2 separate regions of the Homo sapiens genome follow, and region 2 is linked to region 1. A link means that fine-mapping ties the variant in region 1 to the expression of a gene that starts in the linked region. Tissue or cell type: subcutaneous fat. Region 1 holds a variant in brackets; the other region holds the start of a gene. All regions are shown on one strand. Distances are between the middles of the regions.

What was found. PIP is the estimated chance that this variant, and not a neighbour inherited with it, causes the effect.
Region 2: SLC5A4 starts here. The variant in region 1 is fine-mapped to the expression of SLC5A4 in subcutaneous fat (GTEx, PIP 0.94).

Annotation. Positions count from the first base shown.
Region 1 is chr22:32,310,530-32,315,529 of GRCh38, reverse strand. It overlaps a transcript of SLC5A4 not described here. Among named protein-coding and RNA genes, the nearest start is that of RFPL3, 45 kb to the left of the region's middle. The variant A/G (reference allele first, on the strand shown) is at 2,424.
Region 2 is chr22:32,252,389-32,257,388 of GRCh38, reverse strand. SLC5A4 (solute carrier family 5 member 4) reads left to right here and starts at 2,042. Exons shown (of 15, transcript NM_014227.3): 1 at 2,042-2,194; 2 at 3,176-3,247. The coding sequence starts at 2,060. The region is part of intron 2 of SLC5A4-AS1 (SLC5A4 antisense RNA 1); the gene reads right to left.

The DNA of each region.
Region 1 (5,000 bases):
TTATTTTCTCCCTACTGTGAACAATATCAAAATTAGAATATTTCTACTTTCCCTCTTCTTGTCTCCCTTCCATCAAGTTATTTTAGTTGATTATTTTTTGTTTACCTTGATGCCTCTAATTTTACTTAGACTTCTAAGCAATAATTTAGACCTCCAACTATATATGAATATGACATAGTTTACTTGTATTACCTCTCTCCTTCTCACCTCCACCCCTCCTACTTTTTATTATTTATGCCAGTTCTGTTTTGTTTCATTCTTCTCTGTGATGGTCATAATCTTTAGATTGGCTTTAATAGTCCTGCAGTTACACAAATTCTGTGCTCATTGCTGGCACTCTTGGCAGTGCTCCATTTACAACTTGACCCCTGATTTCTCTTCATTTGCATTTGTTATGCTTCTGCTCATCCTTTTTATGAATTGTGGTAGAATGCACATAACATATAACCATTTTAACCATTTTTAAGTATACAGTTCAGGGGCATTAAGTACCTTCTCACTGTAGGGCAACTGATATGGTTTGGCTGTGGCTGTACCCAAAGCTCATCTTGAATTGTAACTCCCACAATTCCCATGTGTCATGGGAGGAACCCAGTGGGAGGTAATTGAATCATGGGGGCAAGTCTTTCCCATGCTGTTTTCATGATAGTGAATAAATTTCATGAGGTCTGATGGGAATTTTCCTGCACAAGCTCGCTCACTCTCTCTGTCCCTTTGCCTGCCACCATCCACATAAGACGTGACTTGCTCCTCCTTGCCTTTCACCATGATTGTGAGGCCTCCCCAGCCATGTGGAACTGTAAGTCCAGTTAAGCCTCTTTCTTTTGTAAATTGCTTGGGTATGTCTTTATCAGCAGCATGAAAATGGATTAATACAGCAGCCATCACTGCCATCTATCCACAGAACTTTTAAAAAAATCATCTGCCCATCCTTTTACATTAAACTTTTCTGAATCATTCTTGATTTGCCTAAGGGTGTCCTTAATTTTTTTAAGAAGGGGTCATGGGAACTATAATTCAAAAATATGTTCAACATGTTTTTCTGTTGACTTTATATTTGAAAGATGGTTCATTGGGCTTTAAATTCTTGGTTCATTCATTTATTTGATAAACATTATTAAGCCCCTACAGTATGCCAGTTACTGTCCTAGGCCCTGGCAATGCAGCAATGTGTAAAACACACAATCACCTTAACCCTCTTGTAGCTAACTTTCTATGTGGGGAAGACAAACAATAAATTATTCAAGTAAGTACAATAGGTGGTATGCTGGATAGAGGTGTGTGCTATGGAGAAAAAAAAGTCGGTGATGGAGAGTACCTGGCTTTGTTCTGTGAAGCTGAGGAGATGGCCCCACGGAATCTCTCACCCTTAGCCCCTGTACACATTCCCACTGATGCAAAGAGTGGAGAGTAGGTTCTCCTTCTTGGCGTATCTCTCACTCTGGGGAGGTGGGCTTTGCTGGCTTTGTCGGAGCCACTCCCTTGACTTCTCCATTTGCCCAAAAAACATGTAGTTTGGTTGAAGATGGTTTATCAGTTAAGAACTGTCACCAGTTGCAATTTATGCAAGTAAAGGAAATTTGACTGCAGTGGTGTGGAGGGGGCAGTCCAGGGCTGCCACCAGAACCCAGTTTCTCCCTGCCTTCTACTCCACCTGTGTTAGTGAGCATCCTTCATTCTCATGCATGCAAGATAGTTCATCTTCCCCTGGATTTATGTCCCCTTCCCAATAGACTCCCACTTACATGACATTGGCCAGACTGGGTCATGTGACCACCCCTGCTTGCAAGGGAGTCTGGGAAGGTAAGTAGTTGTGGCTGGGCAATTGCTCTTGTAATAGACACAGGGCAGTGGGGTTCATGCTGCCTGCCACAGATGGAGTTTGTATTTCTTTTCCTCATTGTCTTGTTTGCAACTTGACTCTGCCATTCAAAGCTATAAGTGCCCAGCAGACCTGTTTCCACACTGTAGATCTTGTTCCACTGCTCTCCTGGCTCTTCCCTATTCCAGGAGCATCTTGGTATCTTCTCTATAGCTTTGTATGACATGGTCATGGTCATATCTTAGTGTCATTCCAAAATACAGGATCGTTTTTGTCAGTATGAATGGTATCTGTATCTGTGTTTAATATTTAGTTTGTTATAGCAAGGGTGACAGTATAATTTATCATCCAAATCAGAATACTTTTGAGGGTAAAAGGGGAACAACATTAAAAATTATGTCAGAACAACAAGTGTCAACTGAGACTGTCCCAAGCCATGACATATAATTACCCTAGTAACTGCTGAGGTCAATGCACACTGTTGCATTTTATAAATTGATCTGATGTCTTACAGGTTGACTATTATACCTCTATGTATGCACTCTCCATTCTACTAATTAACCTGTTGATTCTATTAAATTTTCTATGTAAGTTATCCACA[A/G]TTAACTGTAATTTTGGTTCTTCTATTCCAGTCCTAGTCTATGCTTTTTTTTCTTGCCTTATTGCATGAGCCAGAGCTCTAGTACTATATGGAGCTATAATGATAGCGACATTTTTGTCTCGCTTCCAGTCTTAAAGTCACATGGTTCACAACGTTCAGAAGACAAAACCCATGTGTTCAGAGGAAACCTGGATTCTTCTGGCACTGAGGCCAGAGAGAAATGTCCCCAGTGAGTCCCCATTGAGGAGACACCATGTGATATTTTTTTTCCTTGTATTTCCTCCAGAAAACCCTTTTGCTGTGCCTCAGGATGGGGGAGATGAGATCTGAAATACCCAGTGCAGCCTCCGAGAAGGACAACTTCTACAGAGATGCCAGGGACAGCCGAGGTGGTAGAGAAGGGAATGCTGCCTGTGCCCAAAGCCCCCTTCTGCGGACTTCTAAGATTACGAGCAAACTCAGGGGTAGGGGCTGGGGGTGCAGGGGAGGGGATTCTGAGCCACCTGTCCACAAGCGATAGTCCTGTTTTGGGCTGGTGGCTTCTGAGAGGTGACTCATTGTGGCCTCAGGATGACCAAGACAAAGCAACTCTGGCTGATTCCAGCCAGGAGGATTGAGGCCTGTGAGTTATACCTGTGGTTGAAAACCGAAGCTTCCCTTGCCCCTGCTCCCTCCAATAGCGGCCCCTTGGGGCTATTTGTGTCAGAATATTGAATGTGCGTGTGTGTGTGTGTGTGTGTGCGCGCGCGCGTGTGATTTGGGGTGTTCTTGTTTGGTTGGTTGGTTTTTATTGGGGCTTCCCCCCTCAAGTTCTCTGATGGGCGCGGGTTACCTTCTGGCTGGGGGTTCTCATCCGTGTCAATGTTCAGGCTGCAAGCTTCTTGCTAAGCACAGGGTACAGCCCCTCTGTGTCTCAGGGAGCACTGGGGATTTGAAAATGCCAGTCAGGGTTGGTTCTTACAGAATTCATTCCTGTAACAAAAATACTCAGGGACGCATCTCAGGCTGACCACAGGGCAGGTACCAAGTTAAGTGTTTTCATGCACTCTCCCTCTCACCACGTGGGAGGCAGGTATGATTAACCCCCTGCAGAAAAAGCTGCAGAAAAAGCTCACAGTGGGGAAGGGGGGTGCCCAGGCGCCACATGGCCAGGAGGAGACCAACCCCTCGTTTGACCTCAGGGGTGCAGGAACCCAAAGTCCAGGCTCCAACTCCCTGGACATGACGTGATCCCCAGCCAGGGCACACCCTGCACAATGCCAGGAGCATCTCCTTGATGCCTCCACAGGCTGTCGCCCTGAGTTCTCCACCATCACCGCCGAGAGCGCTGATCCACTCAGCACATTCTGGCTAAGCACCTGCTGTGCGCCAGGCCCCATGCTGGGCAGTGATGGGGACAGAAGATGAGTCAGACCTCATCTCTGCCCCTGGGGAGCCTCCCATCTGGTGGGAGACACAGACACATGGATCTTTGCTGGGCAGGGTAACGAGGCTATGGAAACCCAGAGAGGAGGGTTCTAGAAATCCACCCGCTTTGAATTGGGACTTCCACATAAGCCTAGATGCCCGTAACATCCACCCACAGAGCTAATCACCTCCACTCCTGCCCCGGGGCACCTATGAGATGGATGGCATCACCTAAATGATCACAAACATCTCCAAAGGCCACGCTGCCAGTGTAGACACACTCATTCCATGGGTGTTAGTGATACCAAATCTCCCCCAGTTCTTAGCTCAGGAGGCCCTGCTTAATAAACATGTGTGTCCTCTGACCCAGTTTCCTCATTTCATCAGACCTAGTGTTCTCACACTGACTGCCCATCCATTCACCAGACACAACAGTGAGCAAGGCAGGTCCCTGCTCACTGTGCTGGCTTTCTAGCTGGGGCGGGAATACAGTGAAGGTGGCAAGGGCGGCGAGTGTTCTGCCGGGAACTCAGTTCGAGGGACAAGTGAGTGAGACCCTCGTGGACCTGGGGTGGTCTGGGAAGGCCTTATTGAGCAGATGATTGAAGGCCAGATTTGAATGACACACAGGACCGAGTAATGGGCGTTAAAGATAGGAAAAGAGCATTCCAGGCAGAAGGAACAGCTAGTGCAAAGGCCCTGTGGCAGGCACAGGCTTGGTGGTTTCAAGGAAGCATAAGAAAGCCAGGTGGCTGGGACCCAGAGGGAAGGCAGGAGATGAGGGCAAGAGTGCCCAGCCCTGGGCTCCACTGTGAGTCACACTGTGCAAACAATGCCCTGCGTTTGGAAAAGCAGAACAAACTTGCTAGGGCATAAAGCATCCTCCATTCTCCCTGGCTCTTCATCCTCTCAACAGCCCCATGAAGAAGGGGCTCTCCCCATTTTATGGATGAGAAGACAGACTCAGCCGGGTCAAGTGGCTTGCCCAGGGTCACACAGGTCAGCTGTGGAAGACCCAGGCCCCTGGCCTCAGTCTTTGGGTCCAGCTGTCTCCTCCAGGCAGTGTTGCCAGTGTCCAGGCATATGGCTTGGCAGAGGCAAAGTGGGAGAACCTGTGCTGGGGGGTCTCAATTAGAGAAAGGCATGGCTTCCTCTCCCCTGACATGAGCA
Region 2 (5,000 bases), 58 kb after region 1:
AATGAGACCCTGTCTCTGAGAAATAAAAAGGAAATTCTACAATTCAACAGCAACAAAAATACAACATAAGGCTATTCTGGGTACACTGCCAATGAGGTAGTCCTGCTCCACAAGGAGCAGTGTAAAAAAGAATACAACATAATTTTTAAATGGATGAAGAAGTTGAATATATCTCTCTCCAAGAAGATGCACAAATGGCTATAAGCACATGAAAAAATCAACACTACTAGTGATTGTGTTAGAAGTGTAAATCAAAACTATATTGTGATACCCACTTGATACCTACTAGCCTGTCTATAATTAAAACATAAATGACAAGTATTGAAGAGGATATGGAGAAATTAACTCTCCTATGCACTGTGGAAAGAATGTAAAATAGTGCAGCTGCTGTGAACAACAGTTTGGCAGTTCTACAAAAAGTTAAACACAGAATTATCACATGCAATTCCACTTCTACATATAGACTCAAAAGAATTGAAAGTAGGGATTCAAACAGATCCTTGCACACCAGTGTTCTCAGCAGCATTATTTATAATAGCCAAGTATAGAAAGAACCTGAATGCCCATCAACAGTTGAATGGATAAACAAAATGTGGTATATATGAGTATTGGAATATTATTCAGCCTTAAAAAGGAAGGAAATTCTGATACATGCTACAATATGGATGAACCTTGAAAATGTCATACTAAGTGAAATAAACCAAAGAGGAAAATATTGTATGATTTCATTTGTATGAGGTACCTAGAATAGGCAAATTTATATAGTAAGAAAGAATAACAGAGGTTACCAGGGCCTGGAGAGAGGGAGGGATGGGGAGTTAGTTTTTAGTGGGTACATACTTCTGTTTGGAGATGATGAAAAAGTTCTGGAAATGGATAGTGGTAATGGCTGCATAACACTGTAAATGTACTTAATGCCAATGAATTGTACACTTAAAAGGGATTAAAATGGTAAATTTTATGCTATGTATGCTTTGCCACAATAAAAAATGAAGTATAAAAGAAGAATTTCTGGGCTTTCCGTTTTTTCATGTGTGTTTTTGGTTTTGTTTTTTTGTTGTTGTTTTTTTTGTTTGTTTTTGAGACAGGATCTTGCTCAGTTGCCCAGGCTAGAGTGCAGCGGCGTGATCATGGCTCACTATAGCTTTGACCTCCCAGTCACAGGTGATCCTCCCTCTTCAGCCTCCCAAGTAGCTGGGACCATACGTGTGCATCACCACACTCAGCTAATTTTTATAGAGACAAAGACTCCCTATGTTGCCCAAGCTGGTCTTGAACTCCTGGCCTCAAGTGATGCTCTCTCCTTGGCCTCCCAAAGTGCTGGGATTACAGGTGTCAGCCACCGCATAGGCTTTACTTCTAACTTCTTCTTGGCTGTAGTCCAGGAGTCTTGTTTCCTGAGTCCTCATGATCCCCATCACATGCTTCCAGGTTGATTCACTCTTTGTACAACCCTCTGACCCAGCGCTCTCCACAGCTCTGCCCTCAACTCACCACATATGGTGCTTGAAGAGCCACTTCCTTTCCTATACAGGCCACCAATGTCTTTTTGTGGCACATGAAACCCACTTCAGAGAAATGTGGGACTTTGGAATCCACGAAAGGCATAATTCACTTCACTGTCAAGGGATATAGCTCATTGGTCAGAAACTGTATCTGTTCTCTGAAGGACCATTGCATTCGGTCCCTCCTGGCTGGTTTCTGGTACCTTCTAGTCTGTCCTTCTCCCCTCCTTGTCTGTCTTCATTTCTCTCAAATCCCCCCTCCACCTGGGCAAATCTCTTTAAAGACCCTGTCTTTGCACTCAGAGAACGCCCCATGCTCCACCTCAAATTCTCCCCTCATTTCTGGCCCTGCATCCCTCATTCTCACACTCTACCTAGGCTAGCACTCACTGGTGGAGGGCTGGGGTGCCACAGCTTTGGAGAAGAGGTTTAAAGGTCTCCATATCCAGGAGCTGGCTCTGATATCTCGCCCCACCTGCCTGAGGCTGATCATTAACCCAGAACTTATATAAAGATGGCTCATGCGTGGAATGGGTATAGCACTGCCTGCAGCCATGGCCAGTACGGTTAGCCCCAGCACCATAGCTGAGACCCCAGAGCCACCTCCATTGTCTGACCACATCCGAAATGCTGCTGACATCTCAGTCATTGTCATCTATTTTCTGGTGGTGATGGCTGTTGGGCTGTGGGTAGGTGGAATCCCAGTGGCTTTTAGGGTGGGCACAAGGTTTAGGAGGGGGTATCTTAAGGGGGGAAGGGGTGTGGTTGTGACAAAGCTTTTCACAAATGTCATTGTGTTATCAGAATCATTTTCTTGTGTGTTGCATAAATAACGCTTACAATGAACTAATGTATTCTCCTAATAACCCCATCGTGTGCACACAGCCAGCACCGGGACCTTCAGATTTACTATGCATCCCCAACACCTGGCATAATGGACAAAGAGTGTATTTTTATTATCGCATTTCTTTCGCTTTCTTTTGTTGTTTGCTCACTTTCTGATTTAGTGAGTTGGACTCTTCATTTATGTTGAATTTTTTTATTTTAATAAATTTGAGACTGCAAATTTTTTTTTTTTTTGAGACGGAGTCTTGCTCTGTCGTCCAGGCTGGAGTGCAGTGGCGCTTGCTTGGCTCACTGCAAGCTCCGCCTCCTGGGTTCACGCCATTCTCCTGCCTCAGCCTCCCAAGTAGCTGGGACTACAGGCATGCGCCACCACGCCCGGCTAACTTTTTGTATTTTTAGTAGAGACGGGGTTTCACCATGTTGGCCAGGATGGTCTCGATCTCTTGACCTTGTGATCCACCCGCCTCGGCCCTCCAAAGTGCTGGAATTACAGGCGTGAGCCACCGTGCCCGGCCGAGACTGCAAATTTTATTGCAAGCATGGCTCAATGATACCTCACATGGTTTTCATAAGTGAGAATAATCAGAGCAGTTAAGATAGAAGTTAAGGATTATGATTTTTTTAAGTTCTTCCAGCCCTGGGTTTTTACAAAGCGACTGTTTTTGAAGTCCTTTAAAATTTGATGCTATAGAACACTTTCCAGCGAAATGTTTCTCTCTGTAGGAGTGCTGAAGTCACCCCTCTCAGCACCCTGGCCAGAGCCTCTGGGGTGTCTGGGTGCACTTGCTGGGGCTTGACCCTCACCTGTCTTCCCTTCTGCTCAGGCGATGCTGAAGACCAACCGAGGTACTATAGGAGGCTTCTTCCTCGCTGGTCGTGATATGGCCTGGTGGCCGGTAAGTGGATCGAAGTTTTCTGGAGATAAATTTCCTGTGTGTGTGCTTAAAACTGAATGTAGGCTGGGTGCGGTGTCTCACGCCTGTAATCCCAGCACTTTGGGAGGCCAAGGCTGGCAGATCATCTGAGGTCAGGAGTTCGAGACCAGCCTGACTAACATGGTGAAACCATCTCTACTAAAAATACAAAAATTAGCTGGACGTGGTGGTGTGTATGCCTGTAATCCCAGCTACTCAGGAGGCTGAGGCAGGATAATCACTTGAACCTGGGAGGCAGAGGTTGCAGTGAGCCTAGATCACACCACTGCACTCCAGCCTGGGCAACAAGAATGAAACTCCATCTCAAAAAAAAAAAAGTGAATGTAGACAACATTGGGAATGTTGATCATTTCTGATGTACATTGGTTGCCTACTCGCTGGGGCTCCTTTCCTAAATCCCCGACTTCATGGCTCCTCTCTGTAATTCCAGGACATTACAATATGTCACCTATTATGACAGCCGGTTCAGTCTGGCACTGAAGGACCCCAGCTCAGCCCCACCTTATATTCTTTTCTTCTGCTCCTTATCAAGAGTCTTCTCCTGGCTTCTTACAAGCTCTGCGCATTCCTGCTTTGTTGCCAGTCCTGAGCTGATGCTGGCCCTCTTGTTAGGATTGGCCTCCCCTTGTCTGCTGTCCTCTTTCAATGCCTCACCTCAGCCCTTTCTCATCTGAGGAGCCTCCCGGCTCTCTCCATGGGTCCCTATGTCCCATGCAGTTATTGGTTGTGTTCCCTGTGATGGTGCTAATGCTGATGCCTCTTGATTCTTGCCCAGTGGGTGTTCTTGTGGGGTTTTGATGTGTGACCCCCTCAGCCAGGGTCCCACTGCAGCAGAGGCTGTATCTTCCCCTCTGCACCTGGAGAGTGTCAGCCCAGCATCACATTATACAGTGGGTGCTTAGCAAATGCTTCCTTCACAGATCTGACTCATTTTCTAAATGGTATGAGGGGAAGTGGAGATGGGCAACTGTCCTGGCTGGGGTGACTGAAGCAGAACAACTGGAAGTTTGAAATGAATTTTATTTGGGACATCCAATCAGACATTGCATTTTTAGGACTGTTTAGTGAAACATGCAAGGAGGCTCAAGCGATCTTGAAGCCAAAAACCAGCTCAATCCCATCCTCTGGCCCCATGTAGCTGAGCAGAAAAAGTGATTTTACAGAGGCCTTAAAAAGTGGGAAGAGCCACACCCCAATTCTCTTCTGCTAGGACTGGTGCTCATCTACGTCCACTCAAGAGACCTCTCTTGGTCTCTGGGTCTTTAGAACAGCAGACACTGTAATGGCGAGGGGATGAATGAAAAGAGTGTCCTGTGGCTGGGAGGATGGAGAGAAACTCCCTCCTAGCCAGCTTGGGGTCTTTGCATATGATTAAAGGGAGAAGAGCTGATGGGAGATCTGGCAGTGCTTGGCCAAGGACAGGCTCAACTCAGAGCATTTTAGTAGATTGACCAATGCTCCCCCAAGACAGGGGCCAACGAGCTTTTCTGTAAAAGGCCAGATTGTAAATACTTTAGAGTTTTCTAGACATATAGTCTATTGCAGCCACAGAACCCCGCTGTTGTAGGACAAAAAGCAGCCCAAGTCCATATGGAAAACCAATGAGCACGGCTGTGTTCCAGACAATGAAATTTGAATCATACAATTTCACAAGTTTACAATTTCACATTTCACAAAATATTATGCTTACTTAGATTGTTTACCATTATTTAAC